7 linked regions of the Homo sapiens genome follow. The protein of the gene in region 6 interacts with the protein of the main gene of each other region in a pairwise test. Each region holds a gene or a part of one and is shown on either strand. Other genes may lie near its edges. The genes, in order: CHIC2, ZNF23, ZNF250, NR4A3, ZNF683, ZNF330 and ZNF460.

Region 1 (3,500 bases), about 87 Mb from region 6:
GATGATTTTGGGGGTGGGTGGATGATGAAAGAACTAGAGCAGAACAAGTTTTCCAAGCCCACTGTTTTATATTAATGTATAAAATAGTACCCAAAAGCTTAATACTACATTCTGCAAATACTTATTACTTAAAGAAAAAAATGTAGTTACCACCATCATTTCATCAGAAGTTTAAACCCATGCTATAATAAGAATAGATCTCATTATGATATATAGACACATACATACACACAATTTTAAAACTTAAAAATATTTACTTTAACTTAAATCAACTACTAGTATTTGAATAAAAGATAATTACAAAGTATAAATCTTGAATTCCAAAATATTTAAGTAGGAATTCTGAATTTCTTCTCTGTTTATAATTAGGAGTTTAATGATAGGGCTTGGTATAATAATTGTATCTTACAATATTTAAGAATTATAAAACAAACAAGCCCTGATATGCCACATTCTGAATAAGCATATAAATATAAAATATTTCTACACACTTCACAGTCTGAAGTAAAAGCTGTGAATTAGCACCATCTAATTTTGCTATAAGACTTCTTTCCTGCTTGACAGGTGAAAAAAAAAGCACTTGCACGTGCAGCTTAATTAATCATTGCACTTGACATCTCAATGATTTACAGTGAGGAGCAGGTGAGAACATACAAAACCAGAAAGGAACCCTTGATTTGAGTGGAACATTTCTAGCACACTAAGGTGACAAGTATATAGATTCTAGCAGTCATTTAAAAAAAAAAGGAAAGAAACTGTGCCACAAATTATTTGTTAGTAACAACAAAAGCTCAAATTAAATAGAAAAAAAAAAGGTTGAGCTACTGAGAATGTTTAATACTATGCAATTATTGTTAGTTAAGAAAATCAAAATATATTTTCAAGATTAAATACAATACCAATTTGGCAGATACTAAAAAAAATGACACTTCAGCATTTATAAAAGCTACTTAAAAGCTTTTAAAAGAAAGCACTTTATAATTGTAGTCATCTAGATAAAAGTTAAAGAGTTTATGTCCACAAGGCTGTCAGGTAGCTATTTCTAATGAAATGTAAGATTCAACAGTGTCGAACTCTACACTTGCTAACTGTGGACAAGCAAATCTAATCATATAACAACCTGTCCTTGGTTTTTAAATGTTTATTTCAACTCCAAATTCAAAACAAGCTGAAGCAAATTAACATGCATCAGAAAAAAATATGTATGGGATCTGTCAACATGAAACAAAGTACCAAAAAACACCATCTTTCAGTATTCCAGGCCAGTTTCTAAAAAAATAAGTCATCTTTAATTTTCTTTAAGAGAATTTAGTGCTTGTGAAAAGCACCAGATTGATAGTCATGGGAACTAAAAATCTATTTAGCTGAAAGAACAGGGGAAGGGGCAGTGCAGGCTTTAGTGTAAGCTTCCCTACAGTGGGCCTTAATCCTTTTCACTGCTCACACCCTGGGGGTGAGGGGACAGGTTAGCGGTTCTTTACCAATGTAATTCTCCGTCTTTCTGCAAAAGATGATCAACAAGAAATGTAATTTTATCAAGTATTCTTATCTTTAATTAAAAGGACCAAGACCACCAACTCACAATATGCAGGAAAAACAACTTTTTTGTGTGAATGGCGTCATGTTACTAACCTGGTCTGGAAGTAGACAGCTCCAAGCATCTGGATCCCACCCATCTCCCTCAGCTCACTTTAAATAACCCTTTTTCTTTAAAAAAACAAAAACAAAAACAAAAACAAAACACACATTTCTTCATTTCCACACCTTAGTGGTTATATTTTTCTCATTGGTGAACTAGTTTTAATACAGCCATTCAGCTTTGTGAAAGTAAAAATTAACAGGAGATTTAAAAAATATCATTTCAATTACTGAATAGGTATTAAACAGACTTAAGTTGAGCAACAAGTAGTAGTAACATAAGAATAGAAATTTTGGCTTCTATTTATATTGCCTTTGGTCCCTTTTAGATTTTTGGTAGAATTGTGAAAATAGGAAAAACATGAAAACGGAAAGAGAACTAAAAGGGCCTCAGTAATTCATAAAATGGCTAATATGGTAATGATTAATCAGCAATATTAGATAAGACATACCCAAATAAGACATACCTTCCAAAGAAGCATCTAAAGTAAGCTTATAACAGCAAAGCACACATACACCTAGACAAACTCAATTACTGCAATAGAAAACTAAGATTTCCTGAAAATTCAAATTTGAATTATTATGTATTTTTGTAATTTTTCCTAAATACTGTAACTTTCTTAGGAATAAATTATTAATATTATTCCCTATAAACAAATTAAATGCCATTAGATATAAATTAGTCTTCCAGGACAGCAAAGAGCCATTTAGAAAATCTTTAAGGTATTAATCTCCTACTTTGCCACCACTGGTTACTTAAGAGTTTCCTAATTCCCAATGACTCATTTAATCACAATCAATTGTTTGAAAACATGGTTTTACAAAGAAGTGGTTTTCTAGACATTACTAATAAAACCAATGGAAATCTCATAAATTTTAGAGTATTGAGAGCTAAAGAAAAAAAATGTTAAGTGTAGAAACTGTAACAAAGTTTATCTTAATATTTCCCAATAAAATAGTATTATCAGTCTTTAGAACAAAAATATGCTATGATATGCTAATAAAATGTACAGAATACTCACTAATAACTATTTATAAAAGTTCACCTATTTAAACCTATAATTAAAATGTATTTGAATTGGATTTATTCATACCATCACAAAATGGGAAAGCAAAATTTCAAATGTTCAATTCCCTACTTAAATTTTAAACTCTTAAATCTATAATGCATTAATTAACCTTTAACTAAAATGTTTTGAATATATTCATAATCTTGTTTTTAACTTATATTTTTCAAATAAGAATGCTATTCATCTTTAGACATCTGTGTAAATTGAATTTGTTAAGTAAAACAATGTCTTTAGCTGTAAGTTATTAGGGAGAAACCATATATAATTTAAAATGAATTATTTTAACATAAGAGAACTTAAGAGGAAATTATATTATTCACTTCTGCTCATTCTGGATTAATATGAAATTTTATATTCCAGTGATGTGCAGAAAATTAAATAATTATATCACAGTATTATGCTACGTGAAAAGCCTAGATTCACCAAAAAACAAAAAAAAACTAGAATATGATTTCTCAAAAGGATTTTTAAACAAATTCCTTTCCTGTACATTAAAGCACCTTTTAAAATTTTAATATGAACATTAACTTTTAAATAATCTAGATATATTAAAACACCCACTGAAGTATCATGTGCTATTTGTTAAAAGTAATATTTTTAGATAGAAATACGCTAAAAAAAATTGCTAAAATTTTGTGAATCAAAAATATCCTCTAGTACTGAGCAGTGTCTTAATAGGTGCTAATCTTAAACAGAATTTCATCAAGTTTACGATCTAGGCTAGTGAGAGAATATTAACTTGTTTAGGTTATACTGGTTATGAATTATGAAAGATAGGGATTCTCTCTCTGC
Region 2 (2,576 bases), on a different chromosome or scaffold from region 6:
CTTTAGATATTAATGTTTTAAGAGACAGGGTCTCACTGCCACCCAGGCTGGAGTGCAGTGGTGGTCATAGCTCACTGCAGCCTCGAATTCCTGGAGTCAGGTGATCCTCTTGCCTCAGCCTCCCAAGCAGCAAGGACTGCAGGCACATACCACCACGCCTGGCTTTTATTATTTTTTGTAGCGATGGGATCTTGCTATGTTGCCCATACAGGTCTGGAACTCATGGCCTCACGCAATCTTCCCGTCTCAGCCTCCCAAAGCACTGAGATTACAGGTCTGATCCACCATGCCCAAATACTACACTTTTATATCACAAATTTTACAAAAGTATTTCCCCATTTTGCGCTTTATCTTTTAAACTTTAAAACAAAAACATACAGGAATATTTAGTTTTTGAGTAGTCAATTTATCAGTACATACCCTGTGGATAGTTTCTAGCTTTCATCTAATACTTAGAAAGGTTTTCTCAATTACATGAAAATTAAAAATGTACTCATACCTTTTTCCTTTTTTAAATAAATCTTTATTTTTCATCTTTTCAAAAGTAATACATGCTTGTTGTCAAAAATTAAACAAATAAATTAATGTAGGTAGAGTATCTTTAGTACGGGTTTTCCTATCCAACAACAAGGCTTCTCTCTCTCTCCATTTATTCAAATTTCCTTTGTAAAGTGGCCCTCAGTGAAGACTTAAATTTCTCCATACAAGTCCTCCATAACTGTTTATTTCTAGAAAATCTACTTTTCTTGATGCTGCTGGGAACGAAATCTTTTCATTATATTTTCTAATTCCTGTTGGTACAAAACAAAGCTATTTTTGGATGTTTCTCTTTAACTGGTCATCCTTTCCTGATTTAAACTGAATAGAATAAAAACTGTTTCCATATGAAGACTCTGCCATATTCATGCCCTCTTGGAGGTTTTTCAATGGATGAATCTGATGATACTTGATCCATTTTGGCATTAACCTTAAGAGTTTTCTATATCTTTCTCATTATTAGGATTTTCCTTCACTATGGACACTCTGATGCTGACTGAGCTGGAAGCTAAACCTGAATGCTTTCCCACACACACTACACATATAGGGTTTCTTCCAAGTGTGGACTGTCTGATGTATAATGTAGTCAGAACTAAAGCTGAAGCCTTTGCCACATTCCACACATCTGAAGGGTTTCTCCCCAGTGTGGCTTCTCTGATGCCGAATTAAATGGGCATTAACATGGAAGGCTTTTCCACACTCCTTACACTGAAAGGGTTTCTCTCCTGTATGGATTCTCTGGTGCACAATATAGTTAGAACTACAGCTGAATGCTTTCTCACATTCCATACATTTGAAAGGTTTCTCCCCAGTATGTATCCTCTGATGCCTAGTTAGTTTGGCATTGATACTGAAGGCTTTCCCACATTCCTTACATTGATAGGGCTTTTCTCCAGTATGGATTCGGTGATGATCAAGTAGGTTTCTTTTAGAAGTAAAGCATCTCCCACACTCATTACATTCAAAAGGTTTCTCCCCAGTGTGAATTCTCTGATGCCGCATTAGTTTCCCATTAACGCTGAAGGCCTTTCCACACTCATTACACTCATAGGGCTTCTCCCCAGTGTGAATTCTCAGATGCTGCCGAAATTGGGAGTTACATCTGAAGGCTTTCCCGCATTCATTACACTCATAGGGTTTCTCGCCTGTGTGAATTCTCTGGTGTTGGATTAACTTCCCTTTGACACTGAAGGCTTTTCCACATTCAGTGCATTCATAGGGTTTCTCACCTGTGTGGATTCTCTGATGCTGAATGAGTTTTGTATTATTATTGAAGCCTTTTCCACACTCTTTACACTGATAGGGCTTTTCTCCTGTGTGGATGCTCTGATGCTGCCTAAGCTGGGAGCTGCACCTGAAGCCTTTTCCACATTCATTACATTCATAAGGTTTCTCTCCAGTATGGATTCTCTGATGTTGAATTAATTTTGCATTAACATTGAACGCTTTCCCACAGTCATTACACTCGTAAGGTTTCTCTCCAGTGTGGACTCTCTGATGTGTAATATATGCAGAACTACAGCTGAAGCCATTTCCACATTCCTTGCACTGATAGGGCTTCTCTCCCGTATGGATTCTCTGATGCCTACTTAGGCTTCCATTAACACTGAAGGCCTTCCCACACATCTTACACTGATAGGGCTTCTCCCCACTGTGGATTGTCTGATGTGTGATATAATGGGAACTGTAGCTGAAGCTTTTCCCACACTCCACACATTTGAAGGGTTTCTCCCCACTGTGAAGTCTCTGATGCCAAATTAATTTCTCATTAATGCTGAAAGCTTTGCCACACTCCGAACACTGATAAGGCTTTTCCTCAGTGTTGTTCTCTTGATGTTGAATAAGTTGAGAGTCACACCTAAAGGGCTCTACTAATTCTTCACATTTGAAAGGTCTTTCCTCAGAATTAATTATTTCATGCTTCACGAGTTTTGTATCAAAGCTGATGGATTTCCCCAATCCTGTACACCCAGAGGGCTGCTCTCCAGTGATGGTATGACACTGATATGAGTTTGAACTTTGACTAAAAAAACACTCCT
Region 3 (3,500 bases), on a different chromosome or scaffold from region 6:
GGGAAAACCACCACATCTGAAATGCTGAAGCTGATCAGCCAATGGAGGTGTTGCCCAAACTGTCCCTACTCTCCCCAAGTGGGGCACATTATGGCAGGACAGGCTGACTGAGGTTTTCCTAAGACTCAGACGTCACCTTACTGAAGTCAGAGGTTCTTTGCCTTAAGCAACCGCAAACATGAACTTCAGGGTTGGATCTATGCACCATCTTTCTTTTTATAATTTTCTCCATCTAAAGGTCTTGTACATCTTTTGTTAGATTAATTCTTGGATGCTTTATATTCCTGATGCTATTATAAATGTTATCTTTTAAAATATTACACCTTTGCTGGTTGCTGACAAATATAAATAAAACATTTCTGGCCAGGTGCAGTGGCTCATGCCTGTAATACCAGCACTTTGGGAGGCTGAGGCAGGTGGATCACTTCAGGTCAGGAGTTCGAGACTAGCCTGGCCAACATGGTGAAATCCTGTCTCTACTAAAAATACAAAAATTAGCTGGGTATAGGGGCATGGACCTGTAATCCCAGCTATTCGAGAAGCTGAGGCGTAAGAATTGCTTGAACCCAGACGGCGGAGCTTGCAGTGACCCGAGACTCATGCCACTGCATTCCAGCCTGGGCGACAGAGCAAGACTGTCTCAAAAAAAAAAAAAAAAAAAAAAAAATTGTATCCAGCAAAACTGGTAATTTCCCTTGTGAATTTTAATCAATCATTTTCCAGGTTGACAATCACATAAACTGCAAACAATGCTTTTTTCTTTCTAATTCTTATAGCTTTGGTTTTGCCTTATTTTTATTTTTATTTTTTTGAGACAGAGTCTCATGCTCTGTCCCCCAGGCTGGAGTGCAGTGGAGCGATCTCAGCTCACTGCAACCTCTGCCTCCCGGGTTCACGCCATGAATCTGGGAGTAGCTGGGACTACAGGCCTCAGCCTCCCGAGTAGCTGGGACTACAGGTGCATGCCACCATGCCCGGCTAATTTTTTGTATTTTTAGTAGAGACAGGGTTTCACCGTGTTAGCCAGGATGGTCTTGATCTCCTGACCTCGTGATCCACCCGCCTCAGTCTCCCAAAGTGCTGGTATTACAGGCTTGAGCCACCACGCCTGGCCGGTTTTGCCTTATTTTGTACATGGGATACCCAGTACAACATTATATGGACATGGGGATGGCGGGCTTCTTTGTCTTGTTCTGAGATGAAACAGTGTGCTTTCAGCACTTCACCTTAAGTGTCAGGTTGAGACACTTCCTTTCCACATTTAGGATGCTTTGTTATTTTCTAAATCATCAGGTAACTCTCAAAACCTGAATGTCCTATTAGGACCAAATCTGGCTAACCAGTCCCTCTGGTCAGGGACAGAATCACTGCAGCCATGCCCTAACTTCCTCTACATGGCTCTGCACATCAGCTTGTTGAAATTCACTGCTATGCTCACTTCCAGCCATGGGCTGCCACCTGATTCAGCAACCCCCAGTCTATAGACTCCTTTGCCAGATAAGGCCAGATAAGGTTTTACTCCAGGTGGAAGCCACTCCAGTGAGCGGCACAGTATGAACTAGGTCCACAGCTTTGCTCAGGACCTGTTTAGCCCTCAGTGAGGGAGGGGCCAGCTCTCCTCACTCACCTGAGTAGTCACTCCACAGGCCCTGGCTCTTCTTAGCCCCCTTCCTGTCCAGGACCCAGGGATCTTCCCCTCGCTCCAGCTGGGAGATTATGTCAGGCTTGGATCCTGGAAGTCCTGCTCGTGGGGAGGGAAGTCTTTGTTTACACAACATTTACAGAGCCCCCTCCCCCTGCCCAAGCCACTTGTGGGGACATGAAAATGGACAGGACTGATCTTCTGCTGGAGCTGAGCACCCAGAGAGGTGATGAGAGCAAACCTCCAGGACCAGCCTGTCCCAGGCCCCGTACCCTGAGAAGCCCCCACCCCAGTCCAATACGCAGATACATAGACGAGGCCTGCTAAGGTGGCTTACCCAATGAGACTACATTCCCATAGGTTTCCATCATCACATTTCTGTAGAGACCCCTCTGAGCAGGGCACAGGCGGTCCCATTCATCCTGGGAGAGGAGCACAGCCACATCCTCGAAGGTCAGCTTGGCCTGGAACGACAGGGGCTGCTGCAGGTAAAACCAAATCCTGATGTCTGTGATGGGGAGTGGGTGCATGTGACATGTGACATGAGCAGTTGGCAGTGGGGGGCTCTGTGAGCTGAGGTGGGTGATGGGAAGGGGCCGCGGAGTTCAGGGCATGTGGTGACGCTCTGGCTGCTCTTAGGAGCTCTACGGGGCACGGAAGGAACCACAGGGCTCGGGCTGGGGGCACTGCATAAGCACTGGGGACAGCTTACCTGGGGTCCTGCCGGCACTGGCAGGAGTCTGGCTGCTGCCATCACCTGGTCTCCTGGGGACTCCGAGGATCACGGAAATTGAAGGAGCCTATGGGGCTGAGGAAGAGGAGGGGGCAAGTGAGGGGCATGGCCTTGAGACCGTAACTTCCTAGGGGGCCCTCAGGGGATCCCTGGGCCTCATTCAGAGTCACTGAGGGGCACACTGAGGTCAGGTGCAAGGAGCTGCTACTGTTGCAGCCTTGGTCTGCCTTGCCTCCCCCATGAACTCTGACCCTATGGTTCAGGAGCCTGTCCAGGCCCTGAACACACAGTTCCTGGGCCTGCCCAGCTAGTACTGGGCTCTCTGAACACCAGGTGCAAGGCACTTGCTGCACCCTGGTCCCGGCCCATGGTCCTGCCATACACAAGGATACCAGCTCACCAAGGCTCTGTGTGTTCTATACCTGAGGCCCTCACACAAGTACCAGACTGTCCGCAAGTCATGTGGGGGATACAGGCATCAGGCCAAGCTGCTTCCCCAAACACCCTCCCAATTAAGAAAGCCTTGGCCACCAGGGTGACAATAAGACTCCCCTCACCCCACCCTTAGGCAGCCCTAGTGCCCCAATGTGGCACCAGGTTCAACCAGGTATTTGAAGGGGAGGCATGGAAGTGGTCAGTTCTGGACAAACTGAGTCAACAGTGGCCTAGGGATCTGGTCTGAGCAGCTGAAGGAAGACTTGTCATCAAGTGAGAAGGGGATGCTTGGGGTAGTGGGGCTGGTGCTGGAACGTAACAGGACAAGGTAAGCAAAGGTATCTGACACACACCCAAACAGCTGGGAAAAAGGGGGAGCGGGGCAAGAGCTTTCCTGACACATTTGGTCCTGTACAGGATAGGGTTCGCAGTCTTCTGGAGCATCAAAAAGAAGATACTGTGACAGGGATACAGAAACCAACCAGGTGACCAAAGGTGGTAGATCACTCCAGAAAAACGTGGTATAACAAAGCAACCAATCCCCTCACATGCTTGGCTCAGATGGGCACCACAACAAACAGGGTGCTTTAAGAGTGACAAAATAGGTGTCAGGGCTGGGGGCAGAAGTCAAGGGACATCATAATCTCAGTGTCTATAAAACATCAGATATAGGTGGGCGCGGTGGCTCAT
Region 4 (3,500 bases), on a different chromosome or scaffold from region 6:
CACTTGGCTCTTAATATACTTGGCTCCTAATTCTGTCTCTGCTGCATATTAGTTCAGTGACCTTGGGCAAGTCAGCCCTTTAGCCTCTCCCAGTTTAAATTTCCTTATCTGTGAAATAGAGATCATAATACTTATCTTTAGAGTGTTCTGCATGATACCTAATGTAGTGTTCATGCTCATTAGGACATTGAACAAATGGCAGAGTAAGAAAGTTTGGCCAAGGAAATAACATACAGGGCACTGTGCTAAAGCTTTGACAAGTATAATTGTTAATTAATCTTCACGAACAACCCCAGGAAGTAGATATTACTATTACCCCACAACACAGAGGAGAAAACTGAGGCATCAAAGGGTGTAATCAGTTGCTCAAGGTCACTTAGCTAGTAAAGGACAGTGTTGGGATTTTCATCTAGGCCCGCATGATTCCAAAGAAGCCTAAACTGTTAACTTAGTCTTATTATTCTGCTTTATTCTCTTACACTATTATTTGAGACTTGATTGTAGTCAAGAGCCACTACTTATAATCAGAATAAGAGTCCTCAACCTTTGATGCTAAGGATCTACCATGCTTCTCATATGACGTTTTGTTATCAGGTGCAGAGAGGAGGCTTCGCAGCCTATAATGAGGGTGGGGAAGAGGGAAAGAGGATCACAGCAGGTACACTAATCATTTCTATCAACACTGCAACCTAAGGAGAAGGGCACATAGCAGGGACACACTCACACTGTTTGCCAGCCATTCAGCCAGAAGCTTGAAACACTGATTAGACCTGGGGAGGGCAGTTTGGTAGTAGCCACCAAGACAGATCAACCGACTGGGGGCCTCTGGACTGGTATTTCTTTATCTGAGTGCAAGCTGTGTTTCTAAGGTTTTTTGTTTTTGTTTTTGTTTTTGTTTTCCTTCAAGTAGGAGGGATAATGATTCCTACAATTCATGGTGGTTTAAAGGATTAAATGAGATAATGTACCACAATGTCTAGCATATAGAAACTGCTCAATAATTGTGATTTTTTTTCCTTCTCTTCCCTCTTCATTGAGACCCTGTTTTGCTAGAAGTTTAGTTTTCTAAGTCCTTTAAAGAAATTGCCTTACAGAGCTGTTTATTCATTTGCTCAGGAAATCCTTTCTCATGGTTCTTCTCTGTGTTATCCAAATTTTGAGGAATTTGCAGGGTTCAGACTGATGGGATTTTACTATATCCCATATGAAATAAAAATGTTGATATGTTTTGGTTGACTTAACTATAACAACACCAATCGTCATTTATGGTCTTAAAAACATTTTCACAACCATCATTCTTGTGTGACTGGTGTTCAGAACACCCCTCTGAGGTTAAATATTGTAGCCATTTCCACTGTAGGCAGGAGAGAGCCAAAAGCAGGAACCAGGTGACACAGGCAGGAAGTAGCAGAGGTGGCGTTCCATCCCAGTTCTCCTGACAACTGATGTCACAGCCAGAGCTCGCTTCTCTCCACCAATGGTCTAATCCCTCTGAATAAGCAGCAGGTCAATCAATGCTGATGCAATTGGATAAACTGCTTAGTAATAACTTGAGGCTCACCCAGATGGTTTGAACACAATATGAAAAAAAACAGTAGTCACTTTGTCTAGATCACGAGATAAATCTACAAATTGTAGTTTGTCTGTGCAGATTTTCATTGGCACAACCACCAGGAATCCTGCAACAATGTGTATGACAGGTGCAGCACTGTCAGGGTCACTTGTTAAGGCATTTAGAGATTCAATAAGGCAAAAATTATTTGCTGCAATGGATGCACTGAATTGCTAAATGAAGCGAGAAATATAGAAAAAGTATGAAAACTGTCTAACATGGTGCCAGACACAAAATCATTCAATCAACTCTTATTACTAGTAGCCATAAATAGAGACCCTGATCATTCATTTGAAAGCAGGAAATCATAAAACTTACTCTGGAATAATCAAGATCTCTGGGTGTTGAGTCTGTTAAAGCTCGGACAAGGGCATTCATCATGCAGATTGGAGGAGAAGGTGGAGAGGGCTGAGAAGGTTCCTGTTGTAATGGGCTCTTTGGTTTGGAAGGCAGACGACCTCTCCTCCCTTTCAGACTATCTGTACGGACAACTGATGCCAAAAGAGACAAAGAAAACAATCTTCAAAGATTATGGAATGAACGACCATAAATCGCAAAAAGGAATAAAAACACATTACAGTTGAGCAATCATTAATGAGACCAACCATTTAAAAGTGGTAATAAGTTTGGAATAATATTCACACAATGATTTCATGAGAGTTGAAACAAGCAGCATAAAAGCCACCGATATTTACATTTGGTAATGAATTAGCCCTAAAAGTCTCCTTCTTAAATAGAACAAAGATGTATGTATACAAGTCCTCTGTTAATTTTGAGAAATTAGAATAAATAGTCCTCAGTTATTTTAAAATGTAGATATATATGATAAAAATAAAATGTTGAAAGGAAAAAGGAACTAGAAAAATTCACCATCCCAATGTAAATATTAGCTTTTTTTCACTGATTTCTGATAATATGTATAAGCAAACTGGGTAAAAAGCATTATATCCATACCTTCTTTTACCATTCCAACACTGAGACACTTCTGAAATCGACAGTACTGACATCGGTTTCGACGTCTCTTGTCTACTGGGCAGTTTTTATTTGCCAGGCAAACATATTTTGCATTTTTCTGCACTGTTCTCTGAGAAAATATAATACAAGATAGTCAACTGATAGTTTCTGGAAAGAGGTAGGACCTGACAAGATGTATTTTAATTACAATGTGAAAAGCGACAGTGCAATTCGTATAATTCGATAAATTTAATTTCCTAAAACGCTAGCCTGCAGGAAAAACAATTTTATTAGTGTTAGCTGCTGACAATGAAAATCATCTCGGATTGTTCTAAAGCAAGTCTCAGGAGACACCCAACTCTGAATGATAAAATCATATCTGAAATTACCAGGTCAACATATCATACCTTGGAGAATTAGATTATCTCCACTTTTAATATCCCTTTGGGAACAATTTTCTACTTGTTCCACTCCCCTGATTATTGCTGACCTTATTAAAATAAAATCAAAATTATCTGGGATGTACTTTGTTTGCTATCACTATTGTAAGTCAAATATCACAGTAACTGGCTTTGTTACCCAACAGAGATGAAATCATAAAAACCAAAATCAGGATTTTTCTAATTAAAACATATAGGAAATAATGTTTTAATGCAAAAAAACTAACTTAATCAGCCTGTATAGCTTATTTTATCTTTAAAGACCATATATGATAAACAGTCCATTCCTGATTTTTCAAAGCAAAATCTTAAAAGTAGTTATTACAAATCATTATTATATCCAAGGAAGAAAACAAAAAACCCCAAGGTACAAACGAAAAATGAGACAAAGAAAGATATATGACAGCCATATATTTTCAGTGAAAATTCCTATTAATAGGTCATTTCATAAATGTCTATTGACATAGACACAGTAACCATATTGTAAAAAAAAT
Region 5 (3,500 bases), on a different chromosome or scaffold from region 6:
GCTGGGACTACTACAGACACATGCCACAAACACCCAGCTAATTTTCTTTCTTTCTTTCTTTCTTTTTTTTGAAACAGAGTTTCGCTTTTGTTGCCCAGGCTGGAGTGCAATGGCATGATCTCGGCTCACCGCAATCTCTGCCTCCCGGGTTCAAGTGAATCTTCTGCCTCAGCCTCCCAAGTAGCTGGGATTACAGGCATGTGCCACCATGCCCAGCTAATTTTGCCTTTTTAGTAGAGACGGGGTTTCTCCATGTTGGTCAGGCTGGTCTTGAACTCCCAACCTCAGGTGATCTTCCCGCCTCGGCCTCCCAAAGTGCTGGGATTACAGGCGTGAGCCACCGTGCCCAGCCTTAATTTTCTTATTGTTTTGTAGAGATGGGATTTTGCTTTGTTGCCCAGGCTGGTCTCAAATTCCTAGGCTTAAGCAATCCTCCTGCCTCAGCCTCCCAAAGCACTGGGATTATAGGCATGAGCCACTGCACCTGGCTGACAGTTTATTTTTTAACAGGTTTTTTATTTTAGTACTCTTTATCTAGAATAGCACTGTTTGGTAGAACTCCCTGCAATAATGGGAACATTCTATACCTGTGCTGTCCAATACTATACCTGCTGAGCACTGTAAATGTGACTGGTGCAACTGAGAACTTCATTTTTTATTAGAATCATTGTAATTAATGTAAATCTAGTCATGCATCCAGTGGCTGCCATTTCGGACATAGCAGATCTAGCCTCACCCTTATGTGATCTTATCTGTGCCCATGGCACCTGGATTTATGTCTCCAGTTCAGACCTCTCCTTTAAACTCCAACCCAGTTTATCCATCTGCCCACTTGGCTTCTCAACCTGGGTGTCTAATAGGGACCTTGAACTGCTTTCTCCCCCTGAAATTGTTCAGCACTACAGAAATGCTAGCAGGCTCGCAGGCTGGAGGTCTTTCTCAGCCCCGAGCAGGGCAGGTTTGATGGCGGACAGAACTTCACCCCAGACTGTGGGGATCTGACCGCCTTCCTTTTCCTGCTTAGAGCACGAGCCACCAGGGCTGCAGGCCAGCTCCACCGATGACAAGAAATTCACAGTCAAGTACCCACAGAACAAGGACAAGCTGGGAAAACAGCCAGAAAGAGCTGGCGAGGGGGCCCCCTGCCCAGCCTTCTCCTCTCATAACAGCTCTTCCCCACCACCGCTGCAGAACAGAAAGAGCCCCAGCCCCTTGGCTTTCTGCCCCTGTCCCCCTGTCAACTCCATCTCCAAGGAGCTCCCATTTCTCCTCCACGCCTTCTACCCTGGATACCCACTTCTCCTGCCTCCACCCCACCTGTTCACCTATGGGGCCCTACCTTCTGACCAATGTCCCCACCTCCTCATGCTGCCCCAAGACCCCTCCTACCCCACCATGGCTATGCCTAGCCTGCTGATGATGGTCAATGAGCTGGGGCACCCCAGCGCTCGGTGGGAGACCCTGCTTCCCTACCCAGGGGCCTTCCAAGCCTCTGGCCAAGCTCTGCCTTCCCAGGCCCGAAATCCAGGTGCTGGAGCTGCCCCAACCGACTCCCCAGGCCTGGAGCGTGGTGGCATGGCATCTCCAGCAAAGCGGGTCCCATTGAGTTCCCAGACAGGCACCGCAGCCTTGCCTTACCCGCTGAAAAAGAAGAATGGCAAAATCCTGTACGAGTGCAACATATGTGGCAAGAGCTTTGGGCAGCTCTCCAATCTCAAGGTATCTGCCTCCTGGGCTCTGCTTCTCCCCTCAACATCCTTCAGGGCCCCCCATGCACCCGAGTCTGCTTCTAGAAGCAAGGACCTCAAAGCTAGAAGGCACTCCTGGGCAACCTCTAGGGCCAAGTGACCTTGGATGGTTCATTTGGGTGGAGATATCGGATAAGACGGCCACCAAAGTCCTCGCCACCCTAGAGGACTGCCTATGAGATCGTCTCATTTAGGTTAAAATGGGGAGACTGAGGCTTTTAATGGGCAGCGTTTGCCTAAGATTACCCCGATTTAACGGTAGTGTTAGGTTTAGTCTCTCAACATTTGCTCTGGGCAAAGAAAGCCCTTACCTGGACAACCATCCTTTCTGGACTCCAAGTTAAGCTTCTTATTTATTTTTTTGGGCAGTCAGATGAGGGAATGGGTAGATTTTGGTGAGTCTAGACCACAGTCCGATGACCAACCTTTTTCAAGTGGGATCCCACAAATCTGCGCGACCGCCGATGCGATTGGCCTCACCATCCGCATCGCCCAGCAGGGGGCGCCCAGGGAGCGCATCTCAGTGCGTTAGCAAAGGGCGGAAACTGTGCGCTCTCTGGCTAGTTCTGAAGTTGAAGGCACATTGTGGTTATGGGGAGAAGCCCTGCTGGATCCTGCAGGGCAGGAGTTCTTAAACTTTCATGAGCCTCAGACCACCTGGAGAGCTAGTAAACATGCAGATTCCTAGAGTTTTTGTGATCCTCCCACCTCAGCCTCCAGAGTAGCTCCCAGCCCCAGAGTTATCTTTTTTTTTTTTTTTTTTTTCCATATGGAGTCTCATTCTGTCGCCCACGCTGGTCTCAAACTCCTGGGCTTAAGGGATTCTCCCACTTCATCCTCCCCGGTAGCTGGGACGAAGGGTAAACACCACCACTCCTCGTTAACTTTCAAATTTTTTGTGCATACGGGGTCCCAATGTGTTTCTCAGGCTGGTATTGAACTCCTGGGCTCCATTGATCCTCCCTCCTCGGCCTCCCAAAATGCTGGGATTACAGCCACGAGAGTGTGCCCAGCCCTCCCAGAGTTTTTGATTCAGCAGGTCTGGGGCCGGACTTGAGAACCTGCATTTCTAACATGCTCCCAAAGTGTGATACCAGCACTGCTGGTCTGTGAACCACATTTTGAATAGCAGTGTTCCACAATATACCTGGGGTACCTCTTACCCCTGGCCTTCTGACCACTGCCATCTCCCCTACAGGGCAGCAGAAAGAGTAGAGTATCCTGGGGATGATGGGCCCTGAGGGAGATGACGGGGAGGGAGAGAGAAGTGGGCAGAGATTTGGAGAGGACCTCAGGCCCTGCTAGGGGTGCTGGGCAGTTGGCAGCATTTATCCCGCATCTGACTCAGGTCCACCTGCGTGTGCACAGTGGAGAGCGTCCATTCCAGTGTGCCTTGTGCCAGAAGAGCTTCACTCAACTTGCCCACCTGCAGAAGCACCACCTGGTGCACACTGGGGAGCGGCCCCACAAGTGCTCGGTGAGATCCTTCTCCCCCTACTATGTACTCCTATAGGCTGGAGAGGAGTTTTAGGCCCTTGGAGGGCTGGCACCTGCAGCCTCCATTCCCCAGTCCTCCTGAGCAAGTGGAGATGGGAAGGGGGAGTGAAAATTGAAAATGACTCCTCTCAGCCTGGAATGGGTAATACTGAAGGTCACTCCAAAGGCCTGCAGGAGGGAGAGAACAATGAAGTTGGAGGTCATGGAGAGTGTATGTATACCCATTATCTACCTCCCTGAGTTATTGGAGGAGTT
Region 6 (3,500 bases):
CATGGAGAAGAGAGAATATAAGACATATTTGGAGAATGGCTGACCATTAGTGACTTGAGTCTAAAAAGAATAGGCCAAGAAGGTTTGGAAAGTGATTAGGGGCCAGATTGTGGAGAGCTTTTAAAACCATGTTTAGGAATCTGGATTTTCTGTGAACTTTATTATTTTGTATTCTCTTTGGAACGGTGCCTTAGATAAATGCATTATTTTAAGGGTCACCCACTTCATTTGGAATAATATGTGCTTAACGTTTCATAAGGCTTAGAATGTACTTAACTATCAAAAGGATAGTTCTTGTGTTCATTCTGTGGTATTTTATTCCTTACAAACAATTGAAAAAGAAACTACCAATGTATTTAGCCTCCTTTGTGATAATGCCACTTCTTCAGGGAATCATATACCCGGAGTATCACTCTCGCATACCTTTGTTATTTTAAGCATGGGTAGGTGCTTGTATACATGGGTGGAGTTGGGGCTTTGGTGTAGTGTCACTTAAATTTTAACCTGAAAAGCAGGTTATTCTTTGTAATACAAGTAAATTTGCAGTTTTCAGTCAGCAGAAAAATTAATGTGATATTTTTATATGTTACAGGAATGTGACAAGTGTCAGAGGTAAATTTTATTTCTTTTTCTATCTACCTTTAATAAAATTGTCCCTCTGACTTTTTATCTGACATTGACCATAATTTAAAATTTTATTTTACATGACAAGGCGGCAGAAGAATAGAGCATTTTGCTACTTTTGTAATTCTGTACAGAAGTTACCAATTTGTGCACAGTGTGGTAAGTTTGTAATAATTAAGGACATATGCTTTTTATCAACTGGTAGTTCAACAATTTGAACTTGGGTGGGTTTGTTGCTATTGGTTACAGTGCTTACAATTGTTGATAATATTATGCCTTACCATTAACAAAATAACAAAACATGTTATTTTGCCTACCAAAAAACTATCAAGCCTTGGTTTTGTCTCTTTGATGTAATGCTGGAAAATAATTAAGGTACAATTTAGATACAGGTTACCAATAAGTGTTTTTAAACAGTGAAAGATCAGATTTCAGACATAACATTTGGTGATCCTGAACTTTTAGTTATACTACCTTAGTCTTGTCAGTATCTGTTTGTTTACTTATCTACATTTTGATTCCTGCTGATATTACCTGCAGTGTGTTAGACCATTGGGAATAATTTTATTCCACATTTACCTGGTACTTATTTTGTGATCAGTAGTTTTTGTGTTTGATGCTTACCATATGATTCATGAGTTTCCTCACATGTATTCCCAGGTGATTTAAATAGAGTTCTTAAGTCATGTGCCCGGTTCTTAAGTATAGGTGGAGACTTGTACCCCAAAATGATTATACAAAATAAAACTAAATGTTAGCAAGATGGGTGTTTCCCAAATAGTCTTCCACAGACTTCCTGAAATATTAATGGATATTTCTTGAAAAATATATATCGATATACATTTGAGAAATACTGCATGCATCCTCCTTTCATTCTCATCTGGGAGATTTCTATTATATATTTATATGTTAGAAGTTCTGAAGACTTGCAACAAAGAAACCCAATTAACTTTATTACTCTAGATTTACATCCCCCCCCAACTTTTGATGAACAAGTATTGCTTTTATTTATGAGATAATAATAATAATTTCAGGTAGAACAATTTGGGGTATGCTCATTTAAGTGTGTTTATATGTAATAATATTCCAGAAAGTTAGTAGTGTTTAGGGCTATATCCCTGAATATTTCTAATGTAGTTCTAGCTTTCAAAGAAGATCTTTTCAATTCCACAATTAATGAAAAAGAGAAAACTGGCCTATATGGAACACTCATATGGTAGTTTTCATAGCCTTGTTTTGCAAAAAGTAATGAATGTAGAGTGAGGAAACAGAGTTTGTGGAAGATTAATAGGTAAGTTCTTGCTAGGACTTACCCCTATTTTCAGTGTCTCTGGGCTTAAATTTTGTAGTGTTGTTAGATGGATACATTTCTCATTTACTGATTCTTAGTGTTGGACATGGAACAGTTGGGTAGCTGCTGCCTCTCATTTCCAGTTTCTCTTCCCATTTCCTACTAACTTTGTTCCTTAGGAAATCAAGATAACGGAAAATTGTTTCTTTTGTGTTCCATTTTGTGGAGTCTCAGATGGATGATTAATGTCATCATTAACTCTCACATAATATCTGATAAGCAAATTTCCTGATAGTGTTTTGAGTTGGTAATTTAATTTGCTTCTAGATCAGAGGTTTAGTGGCTGTGTGGTGATTTGTAGCTGTATCACCGTATTGTTTATTGTGCTTATTTGGGCACTATTTCAAAATTTTGTTGGGAAAATGTTTAACTGGGGGCTTCGTTGTAAATTTTTATGTTTGGATAAAATTACATTAACTCGATAAGTTACATAATCATTATTTGGTTTGGTTTGAGGTATTATTCTGTGGAAAGAAATAACTTCAAACCACAGTTTTTATTGTGAATTATAAAATGTAAAATTTGTTATAAAAAGCATTCCTTTAAAAATTGTTTTGAATAATCTGAAGATTGATAAGTTTTTAAACTGTTAAAATGATCATTAGATTACAAAGCATAACCTGCAATTTCTGATTTAGTACAAATTAGCATATATATTGTATAGTTCATTTTACAGATTTATTAGTAAATGTATAATCTGAAAAGTCTGATTCGAGTAATGAAGTCTCAGTTATATCCATTTTCTCTTTCTAGTTATGTAAGCAGTAAATACTGATTCAATTTCATTAGTTTTTAAATTATTTCCTCAGGAACTTGGGCTGGATAAAAGGAGGAATTCGTGAGTACTGGTATGTATTCCTTTGCAAGACTAACAGTGCAAATGTTTTTCTTCATTAGGGAAAACAAAGTGCATGATGAAGTCTTCAGACTGTGTCATAAAGCATGCTGGTGTATACAGTACTGGCCTTGCAATGGTGGTAAGCTTCTTATTATCTCTTAGACTAGTACGTTTTCAAGGATAAGAAAATGTCATTCTGATCAGTGGTTATTTTTTTCTAAATATCATTGCTTTGTCCCTTGTTTCAATCAATCTGTAGTTATCTGGATTATGAGTGGCATGCTTTTTGTATGATTTTCCCTTAGTACCCACTTGTTTCTAGCTGCTTCTTTCTTTCTTATTAGGGAACATACAAGGCATGGAAACTTTTCATGCTGATCTAAACAGAATTTCATTTCTCAGTGGTACCTTTTTTTTTTTAAATTTTATTATTATTATTATACTTTAAGTTTTAGGGTACATGTGCACAACATGCAGGTTTGTTACATATGTATACATGTGCCATGTTGGTGTGGTGCACCCATTAACTCGTCATTTAGCATTAGGTATATCTCCTAATGCTATCCCTCCCCCATCCCCCCACCCCACAACAGTCCCCGGTTTGTGGTGTGTGATGTTCCCCTTCCTGTGTCCATGTGTTCTCATTGTTCAGTTCCCACCTATGAGTGAGAACATGCGGTGTTTGGT
Region 7 (3,500 bases), on a different chromosome or scaffold from region 6:
ACTTTTTTTTTTTTTTTTTTTTGAGACAGAGTCTCCTTCTTCGCCCAGACTGGAGTGCAGTGGCACGATCTCGGCTCACTGCAACCTCTGCCTCCTGAGTTCAAGCGATTCGCCTGCCTCAGCCTCCCGAGTAGCTGGGATTACAGGTGTGTACCGCCACGCCTGGCTAATTGTTTTGTATTTTTAGTAGAGACGGGGTTTCGCCATGTTGGCCAGGCTGGTCTCAAACTCCTGACCTCAGGAGATCCACCCGCCTCAGCCTCCCAAAGTGCTGGGATTACAGGTGTGAGCCACCACTCCTGGCCTGGACTTCTTAGGATTTTTGCACAACACAGCATATGAGTTATAGCTTATTCAAAAAGTAAAAAAAGATGGAGTCTTATTATGATGCCAAGCCTAGTCTCGAACTCCTGGCCTGAAGCAATCCTCCCATCTCAGCCTCCGGAGTAGCTGGGATTAGAGGCATCTGGCTTCCATTTTAGTGTTATTAATTGACTTGACTGCATTATTGTTGTATCTCAGAGAATATGGAAGCCCAAGGAGAGAGACAGAGAGGGAATGGCCAGTAAGTGGAGCAGTCAGAACACACATAACATTTATTGATAAAGCTGTCTTACATGGTGCAGTTCATGGTGCCCCATAGCAATTACAATAGTAACATCAAACACCACTGATCGCAGACCACCACAGTAGATATAATATTAATAAAAATATTTGAAATACTGCAAGAATTACCAAAACGTGACACAGACAAAAAGTGAGCACATGCTGTTGGAAAAATGGTGCGGGACAGACTTGCTCAATTCAGGGTTGCCACAAACATTCAACTTCTAAAAATACAGTAACTGCAAGGTGCAGTAAAGCAAAGTACAATGAAACAAACGTATGCCTTTTTTGGCACATATTGTCCCATTTTACCCATGAGAAAATTGAGGCACTTTTCTGCACTGGCATGGGTATAAAGAAATAAAAAATTCTAAAAAGAAAATTAAGGCACAGAGGAGTTCAGTACTTTGCCCAGGAACACACAGCTGACAAAAAGTAGAGCTGGAATTGGACTCTGAGGCATCAGACCTTGGTCTCCCAAGTGCTGTGCTCAGAGGAAATGAAGAACACCCCCGTGTGGTGCCAGGAGTCTCAAAACAAGGAGGCCATAAAGAATGGGAGACATGAGTGGAAGAACTCAATCCTAAGGGAACAGGGCAGCAGAGTGAGGGGTAGACGTGGTGACTCCACGCTTCGACATTTCATGAACCACTGAAAAATAAAAAACTGGGAGGGAACTCCAAATAGCGATTTGGCCACATATAGACGTTTGCACAAACATCAAAATCAACACATCACAAAAGAAAGAACCTTTACCAAGAAAAAAAATGCAACGAACAGCATCTCACAATGAAGGTTTATCTCTTAAACTGAATTAATTAAGTTTCTGAGGTGTTCATTGCAATGGCCCTATTATCCTTACTCACTGACGATGGGGATGCTGGGAGAATTAAGTGAGAAGAGTATCAACAGAGAGACAACAAAAATATGCAGGAAGTAGTAGTGCCAAGGAATGTGTGAGCCTCAGAGAACAAGACTAGACGGTCACTTCGTTCCACACAATAGCTGAGCCAGAAAAAGCCATTATAAAAAGACAGTGACAGGAGCAGACCCATAAAGGGAAGCCAGCACCAGACAACCAGTATTAGTGCCACAGGGGGGCCTGGCTGCAAATCCTGCCTTTGGGTTCTACAAAACATCCCATTTCCTGGTAACACATCCCTCTCCTTTGGCTGTGACCAAAAGCAAACTATATTTCGTAGCCAACCCTTTCTAAGTAAGACACAAAGAGATCAGGAAGAATAAGGTGAGTCAAAAAAATGAGGCTGGGCGTGGTAGCTCATGCCTGTAATCCCAGCACTTTGAGAGGCTGAGGTGGGTGGATCACTTGAGGTCGGGAGTTTGAGAACAGCCTGACCAACATGGAGAAACCCCTTCTCTACTAAAAATACAAAATTAGCTGGGCATGGGAGCACATGCCTGTAATCCCAGCTACTCTGGAGGCTGAGGCAGGAGAATCACTTGAATCGGGGAGACGGAGGTTGTGGTGAGCCAAGGTCACGCCATTTCACTCCAGCCTGGGCAACAAGAGCGAAACTCTGTCTCCAAAAAAAAAAAAAAAAAAATAGAGTAAAGCTTTGGGAAACAGGAGGGCTGGCTCCCAAGACCTATTCCACTAGCCAGGCCTGGAGCCAGGATGAAGGCTAGAATGAAGCTGCTTTCTGGTGCCCCTGATTTTGGAGAGGAGAGGACAGGCCTTACCCAGTGCGACCAGAAGCCCACAGGTCTCCAGCATCACCTCCACGTACAAGGCCCTCTGGGTCACGTCCAACTGCCCCCACTCCTCCTGGGTAAATGTCACAGCCACATCCTCGAAGGTCACAGACTCCTGAAAAGTCAAAAAGAACCAGTAATGTTTCCTTTGCAACTGTGGAATAGGATTAGAACCTGTCACTCCAGCACTGCAAAAGATGCACAGAGAATCAAAGGCCAAATCACCAAGCACCTCCAAAGGGCCAAGATCTGTGCTAGGATCAAGGGGAATGTGGACACTGCCTTGCATGGATTACAGCAGTGAAGAGGAGACAGAAGCGGCTGAGGCAGGAGAACTGCTTGAACCTGGGAGGCGGAGATTGCAGTGAGCTGAGATCGTGCCACTGCACTCCAGCCTGGCAACAGAGCAAGACTCTGTCTCAAAAAAAAATAAATAAATAAATAAAAAATAAATAAATAAATAAATAAATAAAGCCTCCTAGGCAGGAAGCCACTTGAACTTAACACAGAAATAAGGTTAGGACAATCCCAAGTGGACTGAGAGGCACAGACAGTAAGTGCTCTGACATATTAGAGGAATGGGAAATAATAATAATAAAAACATCACCACCAGCAACAATAACAGGAACAGTATCTGAGTCTTACCAATCCTCCCTGTGTGCCTGCCTCATGCTGACAGGTTTACATGCCATGGTAAAGTGACTGAAACTCCCCAGCTCAGGAGCCAGACTCCTGAGGTTTAAAACCAAATTCCTGAAATCAACGTGTGCCTGCTATGTGACCTTGGGGACCTCATTTCATTTCGCCGAGCCTCCATTTCCAGGTCAATATAACCGTGTTTCCCACTTCATCAAGAATAGTCAAGGCTGGGCACGGTGGTTCATGCCTGTAATCCCAGCACTCTGGGAGGCTGAGGCACATGAATTACCTGAGGTCAGGAATTCGAGACAAGCCTGGCCAACATGGTGAGACCCCATCTCTACTAAAAATACAAAAATTAGCCAGGTGTGGTGGCACAAGCCTGCAATCCCAGCTACTAGGGAGGCTGAGGCAGGAGAATCGCTTGAACCTGGGAGGCAGAGGTTGCAGTAAGCCAAGACTGTGTCACTGTACTCCAGAACAGAGCGAGCCTCTGTCTCAAAAAAAAAAAAAAAAAAAAAAAAGAATAGTCAAAAGAACTA

Evidence for each region.
Region 1: the proteins of ZNF330 (region 6) and CHIC2 interact in binary tests that used the Homo sapiens proteins (3 or more experiments, as listed by UniProt).
Region 2: the proteins of ZNF330 (region 6) and ZNF23 interact in binary tests that used the Homo sapiens proteins (3 or more experiments, as listed by UniProt).
Region 3: the proteins of ZNF330 (region 6) and ZNF250 interact in binary tests that used the Homo sapiens proteins (3 or more experiments, as listed by UniProt).
Region 4: the proteins of ZNF330 (region 6) and NR4A3 interact in binary tests that used the Homo sapiens proteins (3 or more experiments, as listed by UniProt).
Region 5: the proteins of ZNF330 (region 6) and ZNF683 interact in binary tests that used the Homo sapiens proteins (3 or more experiments, as listed by UniProt).
Region 7: the proteins of ZNF330 (region 6) and ZNF460 interact in binary tests that used the Homo sapiens proteins (3 or more experiments, as listed by UniProt).

Annotation. Positions count from the first base shown.
Region 1 is NC_000004.12:54,016,106-54,019,605, forward strand, and holds part of CHIC2 (cysteine-rich hydrophobic domain-containing protein 2), read right to left. Parts: intron 1-3,500.
Region 2 is NC_000016.10:71,447,097-71,449,672, forward strand, and holds the end of ZNF23 (zinc finger protein 23), read right to left. Parts: coding exon 997-2,576; 3' UTR 501-996; downstream 1-500. UniProt on the Homo sapiens protein: May be involved in transcriptional regulation. May have a role in embryonic development.
Region 3 is NC_000008.11:144,887,954-144,891,453, forward strand, and holds part of ZNF250 (zinc finger protein 250), read right to left. Parts: intron 2,451-3,500; 5' UTR 2,397-2,450; coding exon 2,355-2,396; intron 2,122-2,354; coding exon of another isoform or gene 2,107-2,121; coding exon 1,980-2,106; intron 1,742-1,979; coding exon 1,628-1,741; intron 1-1,627. UniProt on the Homo sapiens protein: May be involved in transcriptional regulation.
Region 4 is NC_000009.12:99,831,885-99,835,384, reverse strand, and holds part of NR4A3 (nuclear receptor subfamily 4 group A member 3), read right to left. Parts: intron 2,697-3,500; coding exon 2,567-2,696; intron 2,104-2,566; coding exon 1,931-2,103; coding exon of another isoform or gene 1,853-1,930; exon of another isoform or gene 1,084-1,852; intron 1-1,083. UniProt on the Homo sapiens protein: Transcriptional activator that binds to regulatory elements in promoter regions in a cell- and response element (target)-specific manner.
Region 5 is NC_000001.11:26,362,751-26,366,250, reverse strand, and holds part of ZNF683 (tissue-resident T-cell transcription regulator protein ZNF683), read left to right. Parts: intron 1-1,024; coding exon 1,025-1,719; intron 1,720-3,096; coding exon 3,097-3,225; intron 3,226-3,500. UniProt on the Homo sapiens protein: Transcription factor that mediates a transcriptional program in various innate and adaptive immune tissue-resident lymphocyte T-cell types such as tissue-resident memory T (Trm), natural killer (trNK) and natural killer T (NKT) cells and negatively regulates gene expression of proteins that promote the egress of tissue-resident T-cell populations from non-lymphoid organs.
Region 6 is NC_000004.12:141,223,895-141,227,394, forward strand, and holds part of ZNF330 (zinc finger protein 330), read left to right. Parts: intron 1-592; coding exon 593-612; intron 613-712; coding exon 713-783; intron 784-2,872; coding exon 2,873-2,952; intron 2,953-3,500.
Region 7 is NC_000019.10:57,283,485-57,286,984, reverse strand, and holds part of ZNF460 (zinc finger protein 460), read right to left. Parts: intron 2,435-3,500; coding exon 2,308-2,434; intron 1-2,307. UniProt on the Homo sapiens protein: May be involved in transcriptional regulation.